2 separate regions of the Homo sapiens genome follow, and region 1 is linked to region 2. The links come from fine-mapping of genetic effects on gene expression. A gene starts in region 2. The other region holds a variant in brackets. All regions are shown on one strand. Distances are from middle to middle.

Region 1 (9,913 bases), 360 kb before region 2:
ACATGGCAAAACCCCATCTCTACTAAAAATACAAAAATTAGCCTGGTGTAGTGGTGCCTTCCTGTAATCCCAACTACTCAGGAGTCTGAGGCATGAGAATTGCTTGAACCTGGAAGCAGAGGTTGCAGTGAACCCGAATGGTGCCACTGCACTCCAGCATGGGTGATAGAGAGAGACTGTCTCAAAAAAAAAAAAAAAAAAGTTAAAATAGCTAAAATTATTTTTAGTAATATATTTTATTTATCCCAGTTTATACAAAATATCATTTCAACATGTTGTCAATATTAAAATTACTGAGATATTAAAAAAAATCTTGGTACTAAGTCTTTGAAATCTGGTATTTTACACCTAAAGCACATCTCAATTCACAGAAGCCACATTTCAAATCTTCAACTGTCACATGTGGCCACTGGCTAGTACTGGACAGTGCAACTCTAGAATATTTAAATTATAAAGTAATACTTAGAACTTTTATCAGGAAATTGAGGTAAAACTCACACTTACACTTAAAGCTTTAGTAAAATTAGAGACGCTGATCATAACATTCATGAGACTGGATGCAAAACATGAACTTATTTTTAATTTTCAGCTAGCTTTATTTTACCCATGCTTCCTTTTTCCATCACTAAAAAGTGAAACTTCAACACGGTACAAACTAAACAGTAAGTAGTTACTAAAACCTTGTTATGAAGTTTTTTTTAGCGTTCTTAGCTATTGCAAACAATGTAGAAGTTCAACTTTTGAATATAAAATCCTGAGTGTAAAGAAGAATGCTTTGCCAAAATGCAAATTTTTGGTTTTTTCAAAGTGGAAGACAGCAAATTACAAAAGCAGAGTATGATTTAACAAAAATATATGAACAAAGGACGTAAGTCTTCTTACATGTCAGGTTACCACAACAGAAATAACAGATCAGGGGTAACTCAAAGGATCCACTAATGAACACGAGTGTAATTAAATCCTCATAGAACAAGTGCCTGTTTGAATTATAACATCTGCTTTTTCTAAACGTAACTAGAATATGTTTCACATTCTGTCCTCCTAGCAATTTTCCAAACTCTAAAATTTTGAAAACATTAATCTCCAAATCAACGAAAATGTCAATATTGAAAAGCAGTCTTTAACAGGATGTAACGACCTCTATTTCTTCAAAAATTGAACGTGGAAGTAAACAACGTAAGAAAGGCATGTGAAGCTACAACAGTGGTATAGCTTTTTAGACAGCTAAAAGGTTTTTTAAAAAGGAGAATCTATTAATATTCTTAATATCGTAAAAAGCTTTTAACTAAGTTTGTATGTTTAACCATTAAAAGGCTGCACTGGCTAACATTTGTTTCTTTGCTTTTGAGTGACTTTATACCACTGTGGTATAGCAACGTTAGCTTTCTCAGGTTAACCAAAAGTTCCTACTGGAACTTAAAAGTTTGGCCAATACAAAATTGGAAAAAAGATTACTTAAAGCACTTTATTTGGGATACAAACTCACCCACCCACAATGGGTAGGGGGAGAGTAGAAATGAAAAAAAGGAAGGCCGTGGGTAAGGGGAGAGGAGGAATTAAAAAGGGAACCCAAGGGTTATGAAAATATAAATAAATCACTGGATTAGATTTACTTTATGCCAGTGATTACTTGAGTCAATTTTGGTGTGAAGGATTTATCTGCCGGTATCTTAAACGGCTGCCTTGGGATTTGAAGGATGGAAATGACAGCTACCCTCATCTTCTCCCATCCTGAAAGCTAAGGATAGAAAAAAGTACAGCTGCTTCTCTGGGAAACAAAGATGCTTTCTACCATTCTTCTAAGATGGTGGAAGAGTCTCCTCAAGAGGCTACACCAAAAAGGAAAAATGAGAGAGGGAAAGAAGAAAGCCATAGCAGAATTTCCTGGCTGTGTTTCATGCCATTGCTCCTAGCCACAACCCCTGTGCAACCACTCAGGTCCGGCCGTCCCCATCCTGGGAGGTTAAGCCCTCCCAGGGCATTGTTTGGCCGGGGTTCCTATTTACCACTCAGATCGCCTCCACCACCCTCTACGCTAGGGTCTCGGGAAGCCCCAGGGCAGAAAGCTGAAAAGCTAGGAGAAGACTTGGTTTCGAGGACCTCTTCCAAACCCCCTTACTAACTGGTGTAGAAAAGGGAGAGTGAAGCCGGGCCTTTGCTTGGGTGGGTTCGTTAGGGGTCAGAGGCGTCCGCTCGGCCAGTGTCGAAGGAAGGTGGCCATTTGAGCCGGTCGCTCCGCATCGAAAAAGCCCTACCAGAGAGAGGGGCCTCCGCAGGGCCCGGGTTCCATCCGAGTGTCAGGTGCGGCCCTCAGTTCCCAACCCTCGAGGCACCAGGGGCGACAGCGCACAGGCCCCAGGGCTGAGACTGGTCTCCCGCCCGACCGCCGGGGACCAGGCACCCGGGCTGGGGCCCGAGCCGCATCGTGCCCGCCCCCGCCCTACCTGAGGGGGCCCGGGCGGGGTCGCTAAGGGCCGCTCCCGGGAGCCCCGCGACGGCGCGGCTTGGCGACGGAGGCGCCTCGTCTCGCCGGGGCAGAGCTCGGCGGAGGTTTCACGACCTCAAACTCCATCGGGAGCTACAGGGACAGCCCCGTTGGCGGCGGCGAAGGCCGCGACGGGGCCTCCTCCTCCTCCCTCCACCTCCGCCTCCTCCTCCTCCTCCTCCTCACCACGGAGGCGGACCTGGAGGGATCCCGATCTAGCTCTCGCGAGAAGTTACTCCCCACTTAACGCGAGATTACGCAAGCCCGGGAGTCGGGAGTTGGAAGGAAAGCGTAGTAGCCCCAGCCACCCAAACTGCGAATCAACTTCCCTCTGCCTCAGCGGATCCACCCCGATCACGTGACAAGGGAGCCCCGGAGCACTGTGGGAGGTACTGTGAGAAGGACTAGGCAAGCCGAAGGGATTGATGGGAAATTCCCTGCACATTCATCTGCGCCTTGAGCCGGCTTCCTAGACGCTGGTTTGAGCGAGTGTCTTAACTCCCTTCGTGAAAAGCGTGGAATCCATTGAGCAGAATCTGATACATCTGTGTCACATTCTTCTTCACACTCCTGTGATGACATGCCGACAGGATCCCTCAATCCCTTTACAAAGATGTCAAGTAATCTCCCCATTACAAAAACAAGAAGAAAACATGTATTTGGCAGGCACTTCCACATCTCACTTCTTTATTAAAGAGAAAACTCTGTTTCTAGACAAAGAGTCCAAAGTGGGGGGGGGAGGGGGGGAAGAAAGCTCTGAGCTCCTCAAAAGCTGGCAAAAATAAAAAATTTAAGCACAAATTCTGGCATCATATCTCAAATATTTGTTGAAGCTTTTTACACAGCGAACTAAGGTAAGAATTATTCTTACAGTTTATAATTTATAGATGAAACAGACTTGGAATAGGGATATCAGAATTAACATTTATAAACTACTTAGTATGTGTCAGGCAGGTCCTGTGTTAGGTGATATTTAATTTTAAATATTTTAGTTTTATTTACATTTCATTTAATTAGCAAAGTGATCCTAGAAGACAGATACAATGTACCCCTTGTTACTGATGAGAAACTAAAGAATGTAGGCTAGAAAATGACCATGACGCCGGGCGCGGTGGCTGATGCCTGTAATACCAGCACTTTGGGAGGCCGAAGCGGGTGGACCGCCAGGTCAGAAGTTAGAGACCAGTCTGGCCAACATAGTGAAACCCTGGCTCTACTAAAAATACAAAAATTAGCCGGGTGTGGTGGCGGGCACCTGTAATCCCAGCTACTCGGGGGGCTGAGGCAGGAGAATCACTTGAACCCGGGAGACGGAGGTTGCAGTGAGCCGAGACCGCGCCATTGCACTACAGCCAGGCGGGGGGGCAGTGCCAGACTCCGTCTCAACAAAAAAAAGAAGAAAAAAAATGACCATGACTTGTAATTAAACTCAAGGCACTTTCCAATGTGAAATCAGATGCCCAACAACAAAAATATCGAAGTAAACCTACGATAAATTAGAATATGGAAAGGTTGCTTCTACAGTTTTAACAAAATATATAGTTATTACCTATTATATTTGTCTGAATGACAGGCAAAAATCAGTGTTTTTGAAAAAAGATTCATTGGCCACATCGAAGACGTTTCTTCCACACATTATCTTTTTCGTTCTCTTCTCTTTATGAAACATATGCCAGGCCTAGAGAACTGTTAACAACCAATAATTGTTTCAGTAATTTCAACTGGACAGTGATAGGTAATTTACATGTACATATTTGTTTTCCACCCTACTGTGTATATATATATATACACACATATATACATATATGCACATATATACATATATACATACATATAAATATATATACACATATATAGATACATATAAGTATATATACACATATAAACATACACATTATATATACATATATGTACATATTTTTTTTTTTGAGACGGAGTCTCACTCTGTCACACAGGCTGGAGTGCAATGGTGTGATCTCAGCTCACTGCAACCTCCACCTCCTGGGTTCAAGGAATTCTCCTGCCTTAGCCTCCCCAGTAGCTGGAATTACAGGCACCCGTCATCATGCCCGGCTAAATTTCTTTTTTGTATTTTTGTAGAGACGGGTTTTCACCATGTTGGCCAGGCTGGTCTTGAACTCCTGACCTCAGAAGACCCGCCTGCCTCGGCCTCCAAAAGTGCTGGGATTGCAGGCGTGAGCCACCAGTCCAGGCCAAATTTTTCTATTCTACTGGATATATTTACATTTCACTAGACAGAAGAATATATATTTCTGATAATCCGAGATTTTTCAAAGGTGTCCTGGTCACCATATTTATTTTTGAGATGGGGTCTTGCTCCCTCAGTTAGGCTGACTGCAGCGGTGCGATATTGGCTTACTGCAACCTCTGCCTCCCAGGTTCAACGGATTCTCCTGTCTCAGACTCCCGAGTAGCTGGGATTACAGGCAAGCGCTACCATGCCCGGCTAATTTTTGTATTTTTAGTGAAGGGTTTTCATCAGGTTGGCCAGGCTTGTCTCAAACTCCTGACCTCAAGTGATCTGCCAGCCTCGGCCTCCCTAAGTGTTAGGATTACAGGCCTGAGCCTCGGCGCCCGGCGCTGACCACCATATTTAAAATTGCAATTCCATCCCCCTTCTCTGGTACTCCCTATTCCTGATTTTTCTCCAAATTCCTTCTCAAAATTTGACATACATGGATTTTACTTACTTGTTTACTGTTTGTCTCCCTTCACTAAGATGTTTCACAAGAGCAGGAATTTTTGTCTGTATACCTAACTTATATTTCATTGTAAGGACTCAGGAAGTATTTGCTAGATGAATGATTAATGTATAGTCAGGAGAAATTGTATCCTTTAAATTGTATCCTTTAAAATTCAAAGATGAAGACAAAACACATTGTTCTCCATTCCCACCTCCAGTTTATTATTTCTTATGTAAACATGTAAGATAGTTACATCCCAGGAAAAAGGGCAAGTGTTTTTCTCTGACAACGAAGTAACAACTACCTTTTCAAGATCTTTTATATGTAAATGGAGTAAATGAAGAGGCTGAACTCAAACACTTTTCATTTTTCTGTCATATCAGAAACATAAACTAAATGTGAATATGTTAAATGAATAAATTCTATACTTTGTCATACCTGAACTTTAAAAAAAGA[T/A]TCCATTTTCCTGAAAATTTTTAGACATATCATGCAAACAGACACTCTCCTAGGAATGTTTGGAGATCATTCCGTGCTACTGAACAGGAATAAATAATATAAATAATAACCATCACTTTCACAAAACACCCCTCCCCCAGCAAAAATCTCAAAGTGCTCACAAAAAATTTTACAACAATCTTACAAGGCACACATAAAACTTAAACATAGTTTCAACCAATTTTTTTTCAAATATCCAAGATAGTAGATACTAATTCTTAAAAAATCAGAGTACTATTCTTTTACCCTCTCCTCCCATCTCCATCCTTCCCCCTTCCCCCCACGCCATTTTATAATAGGAAGCAAAAATAAGAAAAGTACTTCAATCACTAGTAAACTATTTCTGAAAAGAAAATATTTTCACACCAACAAATGGCCAATCTTAGGTCAAATGGAAGCAATGAACTATGAATGAAAAATTAGCAATGAGCTATCACACTTTCCAGTGGAAAAAGATCCACTAATTAGAAAAATTATGTCTCCAATGGAGTACTTAAGTAACAAAGTTCATAAAGACACAAAACCGTCCTCTCTTGCTTTCCCCTCTTCTGTTCTCAGGAAGAATTAAATACAAAATCATGGAATTTTAGACCTGGAAATGATCTTTCAAATGACCAAGATCAAAGTTATTTTACATATAAAGTTAAAAAGTTCAAGGAGAAATTCAGCACAATGTCGCTAACTAGTAACATTGGGTTATGAAGTCGGTTTTTTCATCAAACGAGACCTGCATTCTTGAAAGTCTCAAGGAAAGTTAAAATTCAGTGGAGAATGTCTTTCCCACAAAATTGTCAAAAAAAGGTTAACACTTATAACAACGAACATGTGATTCATTCATCACACAATTTTTATAAATGGTACAAAGTATATTACATTTTAAAATACAGAAGGGCTTCAATAGAAATTAAATACAGTAGAAATTCTACATAAAGCTAAGTTAACTAGAGGAGGACTAGAACAGCTTCAAAGAAAGATGCATCTAGTCAGTCTTCTTTACGAAAAGCAGTTCCTGTGTTTTAGAGAATATTATTTGCCCTGCAGTATATTTTAATCTTTGTTAAAATAATTTATAAAAGTTTTGTGTTATATGTAGACGGAGATGTTAGAGAACTATGGCTCAGAACACCATCTCAAATATGACTCTCGCTAAAATAATCATACAGTCATAGTTTTCCTTTTGGCATATTTTTGGAAATATAAAACTCTAGGGATGGTTAAGATTTTTATCAACACATAGTGAATGGAAATTACATTAATGTAAATGAAAAAATACAACACTAATAGCTACACCTTTTTAAATTGCTCATCTAGTAACAGCTAGAATATATATTGCCAATTCAAAATTTAAAATGACATGGATGAACCTCAAAGTCATTATGCTGGGTGAAAAAGCATTTCAAGAGGGAACGTACTATAAGATTCTGTTTATATGACAGTCCAGAAAAGGCAAAATAATAGTGACGGAGAACTGTTGCCAGGATTAGAGCTAGAAGGAGCTGACTACAAAGGGACAGCATAAGAGAGCTATTGGGAGTGAAGGAACTGTTCTGTACCGACTGCAGTAGTGGTGCACAAATCTTTCTGTTAAAATTCACAGAACTATACACCAAGAAGAAATTTCAATTTTACTTCATGTTAAATAAAAAATAAAATAGAGAGGAACTTTTAAAACAGTAGAACAGATATCCCTGGTAAAGGTAGAATTTCTCATTTTTCACAGCTTCATGCCAATGGTATAATTTTACTGGCCACAAAATTATTAAATCCGATTGTATTAAATAAAATCAAGAAACTCGGGCCCAATGAACCATTTCTTAAGTATGTATACTAATAAGGCATGGAAATAAAAGTATTTTAAGGATTATTAACCCTGTATAAAAAAATTCTGCTATTCCCAAGTGAATCTGAATTGTTACTTTATACATTTTAAAATGAAAAGTATCTTGGTGTTTAGTTTGGAATCCAAGAACAGCTGGTAAAAAGTTAAAAAAAAATTTTTTTAGTGCCATCTGTTCTAAAGTGACTAGAAACAGGTAATAGTGTTTTTACCTTTATTTTCTCTTCTTGTTATCCTAATTCATTAAAGTTTTTATATGATTGGATTTTATACTTAAATCAATTACCTAGAGACTCCAAATCGGAATCTGCAAATACTGCTGGATCCTTTGTCACTAGAATCAAGAATATATAAGAGAGGAACACTATTTCTCTAGGGATACTACTGAGACTTATATGTAAGGTATGAGATGAGACAGAATCCCATCAGCTTTACTGTGCCTCCCATAACTTTGGAACTGTTAGAAGTTCAGAAAGAATGATTATGTGTAAGCCGACAAAATATAAGAAACAAAGATTGGGGGGATGAAATATTACAAATGCTGCATCTCTACAGAAAGACTTGCGTAATAGAATAATACAAACTTTATATAACAAGTCTGTGATTATAATTATAGTAGACTTTGCCTTTTGAGATCAGGCCTAGATAGTTTTTCACCACTGCTTCTGCCATGGACAGAGGTTAAGTGCTTTTTGAGAGCAGACTTGTGCTTGAAATCCATATCACAACAGTGGCATTTGTATGGCCGATCCCCACTGTGTATGTTCAAGTGGTCCTGAAGTGTGCTTTTGGCAGTAAATGTCTTCAAGCACACAGTACACTGAAAGGGCCGTATGCCCATGTGTCCTCGGATGTGTCGGTTGAGATTTTTCTTCTGTGTAAATGTTTTTCCGCACTGTAAGCATAAGAATAGTTTATGCATTTTAAGGTGGCGCAGATAGTTTTCAACATGAAGAAAGCCTCGAGGACACCTGGGGCACTGGTGCCTCAGTGAATAACCTTCCTCCAGATTCTGAATCTCACTCACTGTACCATAACTTCCTTCAGTATTCTCACAAAATAAGCCCTGATCTTGATTCCCAGGAACTTCAGCCACTCTGCTCTCAACTGTAGAATTGATCAATGAATGCTGTGTTTCAGAGAAATACATGCTTGCTTTTGAAGAGGTACAAGGCTGTGAAAACTGCCCATTTTCGACACCAGCTGTACTGATGGATTCTACATGAAGGATACAAATTTCATTGTCTTTAAAACCTATGTCTACTGTAGACAGCTCTGGTGACTTCATTTCCTTTCTCTCTGATGTCAGACTCTCTACTGTAGACTGCAAAGCATTGCTTTCCTCTTCTTTAACATGGAAATCTATGTTTACAGGACTATCTTCTGAAATTTCAATTATCTCACAGTCTTTATCAGAATTTTCATCTTCATTCTTAACATCAGGATCAGAAGACTGACACAGGTCAGTGTGTTGGTTGTTGTTTTTCATAGAAAGATCAATTTCCAGATACTTTGACAAAGCTTCTGTGCACTTTTCCACAATGTGAACCATCTGAAGGTAACTGGCAGCAGTCAAGTATTTCAAAAGCTCTTTCCTTTTAACTTCAAGTGCTCCAGTATAGCAAGACAGTAACAATTTTCTGCCAACTTCTGCACTCTGTAAGATGGTGATTCTGACATGTTTTGACTGTGTGAGTAAAAACTGATCTCTCATAAAAGTGGAGCAAGCAGCCAAAATCACCTTGTGCCCCTGGAACTCAGTGTCATTAATGTAAATTGATACATCACAAAATAAATTCTGCTGTCTCAAAAGATTCATTTTCTGCAAGACCACATCTCCTTGCTGTTCAAACTGGAAATGCAGAACATCAGACTCAGCAGCCATGATCACAATCTAAGCAAAATAAAACACAAACATTGATGTAATAAGGATAGGGAATGCTTTCCCATGCTGTAATGGTGAAAACAAACGAAAAACCCCAAACCTGAATTAGGAAGAAGAAGACTCAAAGTCTAATGTAGGTGTTATGAACCTTTATGCCACCATCTCAAAACGAGAACTTTATAATGCACTTCTCTATGATCTCATAGCACATTTTTCATAACTTTGTTACAACATTCATTACAATGAATTGTAGTGAACAGTTTCTAGCTTGTTTCTTTTGCTAAATGTTGTGTGCCTTGTGGTCAAGAACAATCTATCAATTTTGAATATCCAATATAAGCACTGTGACCACCAAAAAGTTGATTTAACATAATATATCCAATTAGCAACTTTAACGTAATCTCCAAACTTCCTACTCCCCACCACTACAACAGGTCCTCCTTCCGGTTCACCTGGACAACTGCAATGTCTTCCAACAGGTCTTCTTTATACCACACTCTTCTGTA
Region 2 (9,913 bases):
ACCCCGCCTCTACTAAAAATACAAAAAATTAGCTGGGCGTGGTGGCGGGCACCTGTAGTCCTAGCTACTCGGGAGGCTGGGGCAGGAGAATCACTTGAACCCGGGAGGCGGAGTTTGCAGTGAGCCGAGATTGTGCTACTGCACTCCAGCCTGGCGACAGAGCGCCACTGCATTCCCCACCCCCAAAAAAAGAATTGAATTCACTGAGCCAAAGAAGGCCTCTGTCTCTGGAAATTCCTGCTTAGAAACAATCTTGGGCTATAGCTAGAACCCAATGTCTCTCACAAGCTTCTGCTCAGGCTGAAGAATTCAAACCAGCACTAACACTTAGCTGAGAAATTGGAAAGGTAAGCAGACAGCAAAGAATGAACAAACTTCAATTTGCAGACATCTCTTTCACATAAGTTTCATCTCTATCCAACTTTCACACAACAAATTAATCCACCTAATGGTAAATTACGAAGTACTAACATTTGACCAGTCTAAAAACCACAGGGGAGAAAAAAGAAACTAAGTAACATCTATCCCCGTATTTACGTAGCTCCAGTCTTCCCGAAAGACTTAAACTTGTTTTATATAAACCACCTTGATTCTCATGGGAGATGGATAGAGTCAGATTTCTAGAGAAGAAACCAGCACAAAGGGATTAAATATCTTGTCCAGCAAGTCACCAGCGAAAATAAAACCAGAACCCAATTATTCAGCCTACAAAGCCTAAATAACCTGCTTTCCTTGGTTCGTAAACTTAGGATATCTAAAGTGCCTACAAATTGTCCCAATTCATAGAATTTCACTGAACAATACATATAATCCGAACACTATACCAGAATTGAGTATTCTGAGCAAGAAAGTAGTGCGCACCCCAAGTCAATAAAATGAACACAATGGACTTAAGAAATATAAGGAGGAAACAATGGCTATGTTGGAGAGAACTTTCAAAGCTCACTCTATTCATCTTATATCCTACTGCTCAAATTCTCTGCCAAAAAGCAAATGAGGTCAGACATGCTCCCTATATTATATTGTATACATATATCAAATCTCAAAATACTCAGAGTTTCAATCGAAGGGACATTATACTCTAAAAATCTTTCCCTCCAAAAATAAAATCTTACAGTAATGCCTTCAGAGCATTCTTTTGCTGCCATGACACACTTCAAATTTGGATTTTACGAATCATTTGCTTCCAGGTTTTTTTTTTAATATTTATATTAACGGATTCCGATTACTTAAAATTTGGTGTTCTGCTCCGCCCTCATTATGTTTAGGCAAGATTCCCACTTCCACTCAAACTTATTATTCGAACATACAATGGCTGCATTAAGATACTTCCTAAATCGACAAAAGAAGAAAACTAATCAACCCAGAAAGCTCCCAAGCTACCAAAGCGAACCTTTTATTTGAAATCATACTAGGTACCACACTACACATTACGTGAAGCCCACAGAGTGATAATTGAAGTTATTTCTGCAACATGATGAAATTTATTTCTTAGCAAAATCTGACAAGACTTAATTTTCAACTGTCAAAAGGGAAATCGTTTTCCAAGATTCTAGGAAACCTTGCTTACTGAAGCAGTCTCAAAGTAGTTTGCTTAATCCTTTCAAACCCCTAAGAATCTAACACAAGCCACAGAACAGTGAATGAGACTTGCACTGAAATAAATGTCTGTGTTCAAACCCCTAAAGGTTACTTCCCATGTGTTTGGCAAGCTGAAGGCCATATGTCCGCCCAACCCATAAGTGTCTTTCCTCAATAAAGCTAACATTACACTTCCCAACTCAAATCAAAATACCAGAGAATCCAAAAGCCTCCAACTAAATTTTACCTGAACCATTTGGGAGAAAAAGTCAACAATCCAGATCAGTTATTCACGCCTTGAAAGAGTGTTAAGAGTCAGAAAGCTCCAATTCTGCCACTTTTAGGAGCTAGGTGTACATTACTTCTGTCTGCCTATAGCATGGGACTCAGATATTACATCACCCCATGCTGCCTGAATACTGACCCATTACCCAGAAAGCACCAGGGTATCTGAGACACTGCACCAAGGTATCCCTTTCTTCCTCTCTTATGCATAGCCCTTGAATGCTACTGGCCACTGGGCCTGGTCTCTTCCAGTTTCACAAAGACATCTGCCCTGCACCTGCTGCAATCCCATTTCCATTCACTCTTGGTGCGCTCCTCGTGACCCTGTGTGGCCCTTCTGTCCACTCGTCAAACCAATATGCTAGGATGATACCCACTACACACCTCTCCCAAATTTGGGGATGTGCACTCAGCTCTCCCTTACCCCTTCCCCCTTCCTCATTTACTGGGTTCTGGAATTAAAAGCAGGCTCAACGATCTCTCTGACCCTAGGAGTATGAACTTTCAGATATGACACTGAGTTTAATGTCCTCCACTTTCCATTAACATCATTCCAGGATCCAGGTCCCCCCACCCCTCAATCTCCAGTTTCTCTCAGTATGGAATTTAATCCTCTCCATTTAGTTATTTTTCCAACTTCTGCACTCTGCCTGATCTTCCTTAGACTCTCAGTGACCTAAAAATCTTGGCCCCTTTCATCTCTCAAACTCAAAGTGTTCCAATCTCTCCCCATACTTCCACTCCTTGGATCTTCCATACTCTCTTAAGCAACCTGTGTTCCTAGCTCTCTCCAACTTAAGCAGTCATTTCCTGCCCTAAACCTGGGCATCCTATTTCCCCCACCACCACCACCACCACTCCAATCCATCACCTATGCCTTTCTAGTTACAGACATGTCCACATACACCTCTGCCTTGCCCTTCCCTTACTCCACTATAGGTATTAAGCATTCTTCTACATCCTCTACCCCAAAATAGCCTGTCTACCTTCCTTCTTTCTCCCTACCTCCCTTCTCCCTACAGCACAAAATTCAGTGCCCCAAACCTGTGCTTCCCTCCCTCCACCTACTGTACTCCAGACCTGTCCACCTTCCCCTCCAGTCTATCCCGTTGTCCCCCTCTACTGATTTCGTTCTCACCCTCCCCTCCACCTTCCTCCTCCCCAACCGCTCCACACTTCCCGCCTCAGAAATCTTTCCTTCCATTTGTCCCCACACTTTACCTGCCACTCCAAGAACACTTCCCTTTCCCCACCCCCTTTTGCCCTCCACCTCACACACTCCACGCCACCCCACACCTGTCCCTCTCCCCCAGCTCCTGCCCCTAACGTCCTCCAACACTTGCCAAGAACCCCTCACCCTCCGTCCTACCTCAAAATTCCCTCTCTTGCTGATCCCACCTTCTTCCATACTTCCTGCATAAACACCCTCCATTTCACGCACTTCTCCCGCTATCCTTTAAATGCCCCACACACCTCCTGCTCTCCATCCCCATCACCCTTCTCCTACTGTCCCCACCTCTCTCTGCAAGCCCTCAAACTAAGTCTCTGCCCCAATGAACTTCCCCCTTCCACCCCATACTCCTCTTCCCTGAGCACCAGATACCTGCCTTTTTATCCTTACATGTCAACCCCCTCCCGCCTCCCTGCAGGCTCCCCTATACACCTGGCCACACACTCCCTCACACCCCTCGCAGGTCTCCTGGAGCCCCTGGGCCTACCCTTCATTTCCCTATCACCCCAGAAGCCTAGGCACCCTGCTCCCCTCCCTCCCTTTCAGGCGCTCCCTGCCTGCCCTCACTTCCCCCTGCCCCGACCCCCTCCTCCATCGTTCCCCTTCACGGGCGTCCCGGTGGCCTTCCTAATACCCGCCCCACTCCCTGCCCCTGGCACGCAGCGCTCCTTCCAGTCCTGCTCGAGTCCCCAGTCTTCTCCCTCCATTCCCACCCCACTCGTCCCTGCCCTCCCCAAAAGCCCCCTCATTCCCTCTTGAACCCCACAATATAGTGCCCCCCCCCACCGGACGGAATGTCCTCCATCTCGCACTCGCCTGGCCCAGGGGGCCCCCCAAACCTGCCTGAAGGCTCTCCTCCTCCATTGGGCCGGATCCCTCTGCACCCCTATTTACCCCCAAATCTGCCCACACCTTCCGCCTGCCCCCCGAAGCCTCTCCCCAGCTCCTGCCCCCAATGTCCTCCAACACCTGCCCCGAGCCCCGAGCCCTCCGTCCCGGAAGACCTCCCGGCACCGCGTCCCCCAACCCTGCCCACGCCCTCCCCTGATCGGCCGGGACCCCGTCCCCGCGAAGGTGAGGAAGGCTGCCCGCTGCCCTTGCCCGAAGCGGCCGGGGCACCGCAGCGGCGGCGGCGGCGGCCACAATGCCGGAGCCGCGGGGCCGGGATTGCTCCCTGCTCTCCGCCTCGGCCGCCACCGCCGCCGCCGCTGCTAAGGACGCACAACAAACAATGCGGGGCCCGGGCCGGCTCCGCCAACCGCCTCAACCGCCGCCTTAACCGCCGCCCGCCCGGGACGGCCCGCCGCGCAGGCGCCCGCCCCGCCGCCGGAGCCTACCCGCGCCGCCGCGCTCTGCCCGCGCCCGGTACCCGCTCCCGCTCCGCCGCCGCCGCCACCTCGCCCGCTCGCGTCTCCGGCTCCTCTGCCCAGCGGCGGCGGCTGCGGCGGCTGCTGCCCTGGTGGCGCTCGCGGCTCCGGTCTCCGCTTCGGCGGCGGCAGCGGCGGCAGCGAGCACGTGACACCGTCGAGCGCGCCCATTGGCCAGGCCAGGGGGCGGGCCCCGCGGCTGCTGGGGAACGGAAAGCCCGCCCCCTCGTTCGCCGCGCGCCCCCTCCACGCGCGTCCTGCCGCACCTGAGAGCGCCGGCCAGCGCCCGCCGCCGCCTTGCTGTGCCGCCGCCTGCGCCAAGTGCGCACCTGGGAGCGCGCAGGGAGCACTCGCCGCCGGCGGCCTTATGCACCTGCCAGCGGACGCTTACGTAAACTGCGTCCCCGCCTTCCTCCCGGCCCCAGGCCCCCGCTCGCTGCAGCACCTGAGCCCCGCTGCGCTAGCGGCGTAACTGCGGCGGAGCGGAGACGAGCTGCGCTGGGAGGCTAGCGAAATGCACGGAAACTTCGTAACTTCCGAACCTGGGAGCTGCGCCGAGCCGCGGCGGCTAGCCGCCTTCCCCGGGCCCCGCACCCCAGTGCGGGATGCCCCCCAACCCCAGCAGCCACACAAATGGAGTAGGCGTCGCACTGCCTCCCGAGGTAGAGGGGCAGGCCAGTAGGCTTTGACTTGTGCCACCGCCCACCTACTTGCTGGCTGTGTGACCTTGGCCAAGTTACCAAGAACCGTTCTGAGCCTCAGTTTCCTCATCAGGAAAACTGGGACAATAATTCCAATTTAGGAGCTGTTGGGGAGATGGCATAAGACAATAGGTGTGAATCCTGGCACACAGCAGTCGCTGAACAGAAGCTGCTACAATCACCTCTCCTTCACCTGCCTATAATGAACCTCGCTGGGATTGAGTTTGGGCCCAGGACCTCTCTGACCTCCTTATGGTTGGGTCAGACTTTGGCTGAACACCTACCAGCTCTGTGCCAGGGGCGGCGCTGGGGAAGAATTAAAGGTTCGCTTTCTATTCTACAGTCCCTGGCCTCAAGTTCTTGGTGCCCAGCATTCTGCTTGCCAGTATACAGTCCCTGCTGTATACCGGGGGGTTTGCAGGCTGCAGGGATGCACTGGCAAATGAGACAATGTCTTTGCCCTAAGACAATTCCCAGCCTGGAGCAGAAACGACCTGACCACTCAGTGCCAAGACAGAGGACCTTGAACAGCCCAGGGGTTGAGGAGGGACTCCCCACAACAGCCCCCTTGGGGCCCCTTTTCATCTTTCTAACACACCAGGCTCAAATATTTTAACAGCTCTGTTTCATTCACAGAATAAAGTGTAAAAAACCCAATTTCAACTGAAAAGGCCTTGGTGATCTGGCCTTAAGCTTCAAGGTGCACGCCCTTCCCTTTGCCCCTCCTTCAGGCCAATGTGACCCTCCAGCCACACAGAACTACAGTACTGTTGTTTCCAGAGTATGCCCAGGTGTGTAGGAGCCTGAGTCTCCTGAGACAGATGCCAGGCCGCAAATCCCTTTCTAAACCCTCTCCCCACCTCTGACCACTCACACCTTCCTTGACCCTCCTGAAAAAAATCCTGGGTATCCTTATCAATCAGCTCAGAGTATATTCTCTGGAGATCCTTGGCTGCCTCAGACACATGGTCTAAGCTCCCTCGGCTTGAACATAGTCCTGTTAAGCTATATGTATTCTCATGGCACTAGATTGTAATTGTTTAGCTGTCTGTCTCCTCCCTGGTCTCTCAGTCCCTTGAGGACAGGGTCATCTTCCTGCCTAAGTGTGTTAGGGAAGACTACACGTGCACATGACATGAGATCATTAAAGCTGGGTTTTGTAGGATGCCCATAAGTATCAGAGGGAGAAGAGGCGCCACACTGTAAAGATCCAGATTCACTGCACACTAGCTGTGTGATCTTGGAAAATCAATCTCTCTAGTCTAAGTTTACTCATCTGCCAAGTGAGACTAATAGTATTGCATATTGTAGGGTTGTTAGAAGGATTCATTGCAACCGTATATCTAAGGCACTCAGCACGGTGTCCAGCACTTGGTTACATTTTTAATTTTTTTAAAATAGAAGAACAGCATGGCATTAAGGATTCAATAGTATTTCTTGTTTCAATATCTTTATTGGGTTTGTAACTCCAAACACTGAGACAAAAGCATGCAAATTATATAAAAGGAAAGAAAGTAAAAAGTTAGGCCAGACGCAGTGGCTCACGCTGGTAATCCTAGCACTTTTGGGAGGCCGAGGCGTGTGGATCACCTGAGGTCAGGAGTTCAAGACCAGCCTGGCCAATGGGGCAAAACCCCATCTCTACTAAAAATACGAAAATTAGCCGGACGTGTTGGTGTGTACCTGTAATCCTAGCTACTCGGGAGGCTGAGGCAGGAGAATCGCTTGAACCCGGGGGGCAGAGGTTGCAATGAGCCGAGATCCCGTGATTGCACTCTAGCCTGGACAACAAGAGCGAAACTCCGTCTCAAAAAAAAAGTTAATGTCTCTCTCCCTTCCTGCCCTTGACTCCACTCCCACTACCCCAATCCCAACTCCAGAGTAGTTACTGTTAATTTTTCATGTCCCTCATTACATGTCCAAAGAAAAAAGAAAGTTGCAGAAAATTATTTATCTGTAATGTGTATGTTGGATTCTCCATAGAAAAACGTCAGAAAGGATTAAACACCAACCACTATTGGTTATGCCTGGAAGATAGAACTGGGTGTGGGGATGGAGGACTTAAAAATTTCTGCATTGTTTTAATTTTTTAAGGATACATATGCAGATTTTTGTTTTGCTTTGTTTTTGAGAGGGGTCTTGCTCTGTCGCCCAGGCTGTAGTGCAGTGGCGCAATCTTGGCTCACTGTAACCTCTGCCTCCTGGGTTCAAGTGATACTCTTGCCTCAGCTTCCTGAGTAGCTGAGATTACAGGCGCCTGCCACCATGCCTGGCTAATTTTTGTATTTTAGTAGAGATGAGGTTTCACCATGTTGGTCAGGCTAGTCTTGAACTCCTGACTTCAAATGATCTGCCCGCCTCGGCCTCCCAAAGTGTTGAGATTACAGGCGTGAACCACCGTGCCCAGCCTGTTTTGTTTTGAGACAGAGTCTCACTCTGTCACCCAGTCTGGAGTGCAGTGGCACAATCTCGCCTCACTGCAACCTCAGTCTCCCAGGTTCAAGCCATTCTCCTGCCTCAGCCTCCCAAGTAGCTGGGATTACAGGCGTGTGCCTCCACACCCGTCTAATTTTTTTTGTATTTTTAGTAGAGATGGGCCAGGCTGGTCTCGAACTCCTGGTCTCAAGTGATTCTCCCGCCTTGGCCTCCCAAAGTGCTGTGATTACAGGCGTGTAATCACACATAGATTTTTAACAATTTACTTGAGGTATAGTTTACACATAAAATTATGCATTTCAAAAATGTACAATCCAATGATTTTCAGTAACTTCACTAAGTGGTGCAACATTAACATAAGTCAGTTTCAGAACATTTAGCATACCTTGCCGGGCACGGTGGCTCAGCACTTTGGGAGGCCAAGGTGGGCAGATCACGAGGTCAGGAGATCGAGACCATCCTGACCACCATGGTGAAACCCCGTCTCTACTAAAAATACAAAAATTAGCTGGGCATGGTGGTGGACACCTGTAATCCCAGCTACTCAGGAGGCTGAGCCAGGAGAATGGCTTGAACCCAGGAGGCAGAGGTTACAGTGAGCCAAGATCATGGCACTGCACTCCAGCCTGGTGACAGAGGAAAACTCTGTCTAAAAAAAAAAGAACATTTAGCATACCTTATGGATCCCCCGTAAGACTCTCATGCTCATTAAGTGTTAATCCCATTTCCAACCCTGGCCACAAGCAAACACCAGTCTACTTTCTGTCTCTATTTTTTGTTTTTTCTGGTATATCTGATACTTCTTTTTTTTTAGACAGAGTTTTGTTCTGTCACCCAGGCTGGAGTGCAGTGGCGCAATCTCGGCTCACTGAAACCTCTGTCTCCCAGGTTCAAGCGATCCTCCCACCTCAGCCTCCTGAGCAGCTGGGACTACAGGCATGCCATTGTGCCAGGTTAACTTTTTGTATTTTTTTTAGTAGAGACTGGGTTTCATCATGTTGCCCAGGCTGGTCTCAAACTCTGGGCTCAAGGGATACTCCCTCCTCAGCCTCCTAAAGTGCTGCAACTACAGGTGTGAGCCTCTGCACAGGGCCTGATACATTTTTGTAAAAAAATCAAACAGACTGGTTGGGTGCCGGGGGCTCATGCCTGTAATACCAGCACTTTGGGAGGCCGAGGTGAGCGGATCGCCTGAGGTCAGGAGTTAGGGACCAGTCTGGCTAACATGGTGAAACCCCATCTCTACTAAAAATACAAAAATTAGCCGGGTGCAGTGGCACGTGCCTGTAGTCCCAGCTACTCAGGAGGCTGAGGCAGGAGAATCACTTGAACCCAGGAGGCGGAGGTTACAGTCAGCCAAGATGGTGCCACTGCACTCCAGCCTGGGAGACACAGCAAGACTCCGTCTCAAACAAACAAACAAATAAATAAATAAATAAATAAATAAAGTAGACCTTTTCGGCCTGGCACAGTGGCTCACACCTGTAATCTCAGCACTTTTGGATGCCGAGACGGATGGATCTCTTGAGGCCAGAAATTTGAAACCAGCCTGGCGAACATGGTGAAACCTTGTCCCTACCAAAAAATAGACAAATTAGCCAGGTGTGGTGGCACATGCCTGTAGTTCCAACTACTTGGGAGGCTGAGGTGGGAGAATCACTTGAACCTGGGAGACAGAGTTTTCAGGGAGCCAAGATCACACCACTGCACTCCAGCCTGGGTGACAGAACCTCTTGAAAAAAAAAAAAAAAGAAAGAAAGAACAAAAATCAAATAGACCTTTTAGGAAAAAAGAATAAAGGCCAGGTGCTGTGGCTCATGCCTGTAATCCCAGCACTTTGGGAGGCTGAGGTGGGTGGATCACCTGAGGTCAGGAGTTCGAGACCAGCCTGGCCAACATGGTGAAACCCTGTCTCTACTAAAAATACAAAAAATTAGCCAGGTGTGTTGGCAGGCACCTGTAATCCCAGATACTTGGGAGGCTGAGGCAAGAGAATTGCTTGAACCCAGGAGGCGGAGGTTGCAGTGAGCCAAGTTCACGCCATTGCACTCCAGCCTGGGTGACAAGAGGAAAACTCTGTCTCAAAAAAAAAAAAAAAAAAAAAAAGGAAAAAGAAAAAGAAAAGAAAAAAAGGAATAAAAGTGTCACCTAATCTCAACCAGTAATAATAACCCAAACTTTTCCTATGTATATATATTGTTCCAACCTTTTTTATGCATATAAATATATCTCTTTTACAAAGTGAGATTATTGTATGCCTTCTGTTTTGATTATTTTCACTTAATATAAAATGAATACACTTCCTTTTGTGT

The links. PIP is the estimated chance that this variant, and not a neighbour inherited with it, causes the effect.
Region 1: its variant is fine-mapped to the expression of STRBP in testis (GTEx, PIP above 0.99).

What each region holds. Positions count from the first base shown.
Region 1 is chr9:122,902,666-122,912,578 of GRCh38, forward strand. RC3H2 (ring finger and CCCH-type domains 2) reads right to left here and starts at 2,694. Exons shown (of 21, transcript NM_001100588.3): 1 at 2,445-2,694. ZBTB6 (zinc finger and BTB domain containing 6) reads right to left here. Exons shown (of 2, transcript NM_006626.6): 2 at 5,391-9,416. The coding sequence starts at 9,407. The coding sequence ends at 8,133. RefSeq lists a silencer at 2,149-2,798. The variant T/A (reference allele first, on the strand shown) is at 5,647.
Region 2 is chr9:123,264,002-123,273,914 of GRCh38, forward strand. It overlaps STRBP (spermatid perinuclear RNA binding protein), which reads right to left and starts at 4,585. Exons shown (of 19, transcript NM_018387.5): 1 at 4,435-4,585. RefSeq lists silencers at 4,311-4,360, 4,531-5,010 and an enhancer at 4,411-4,911.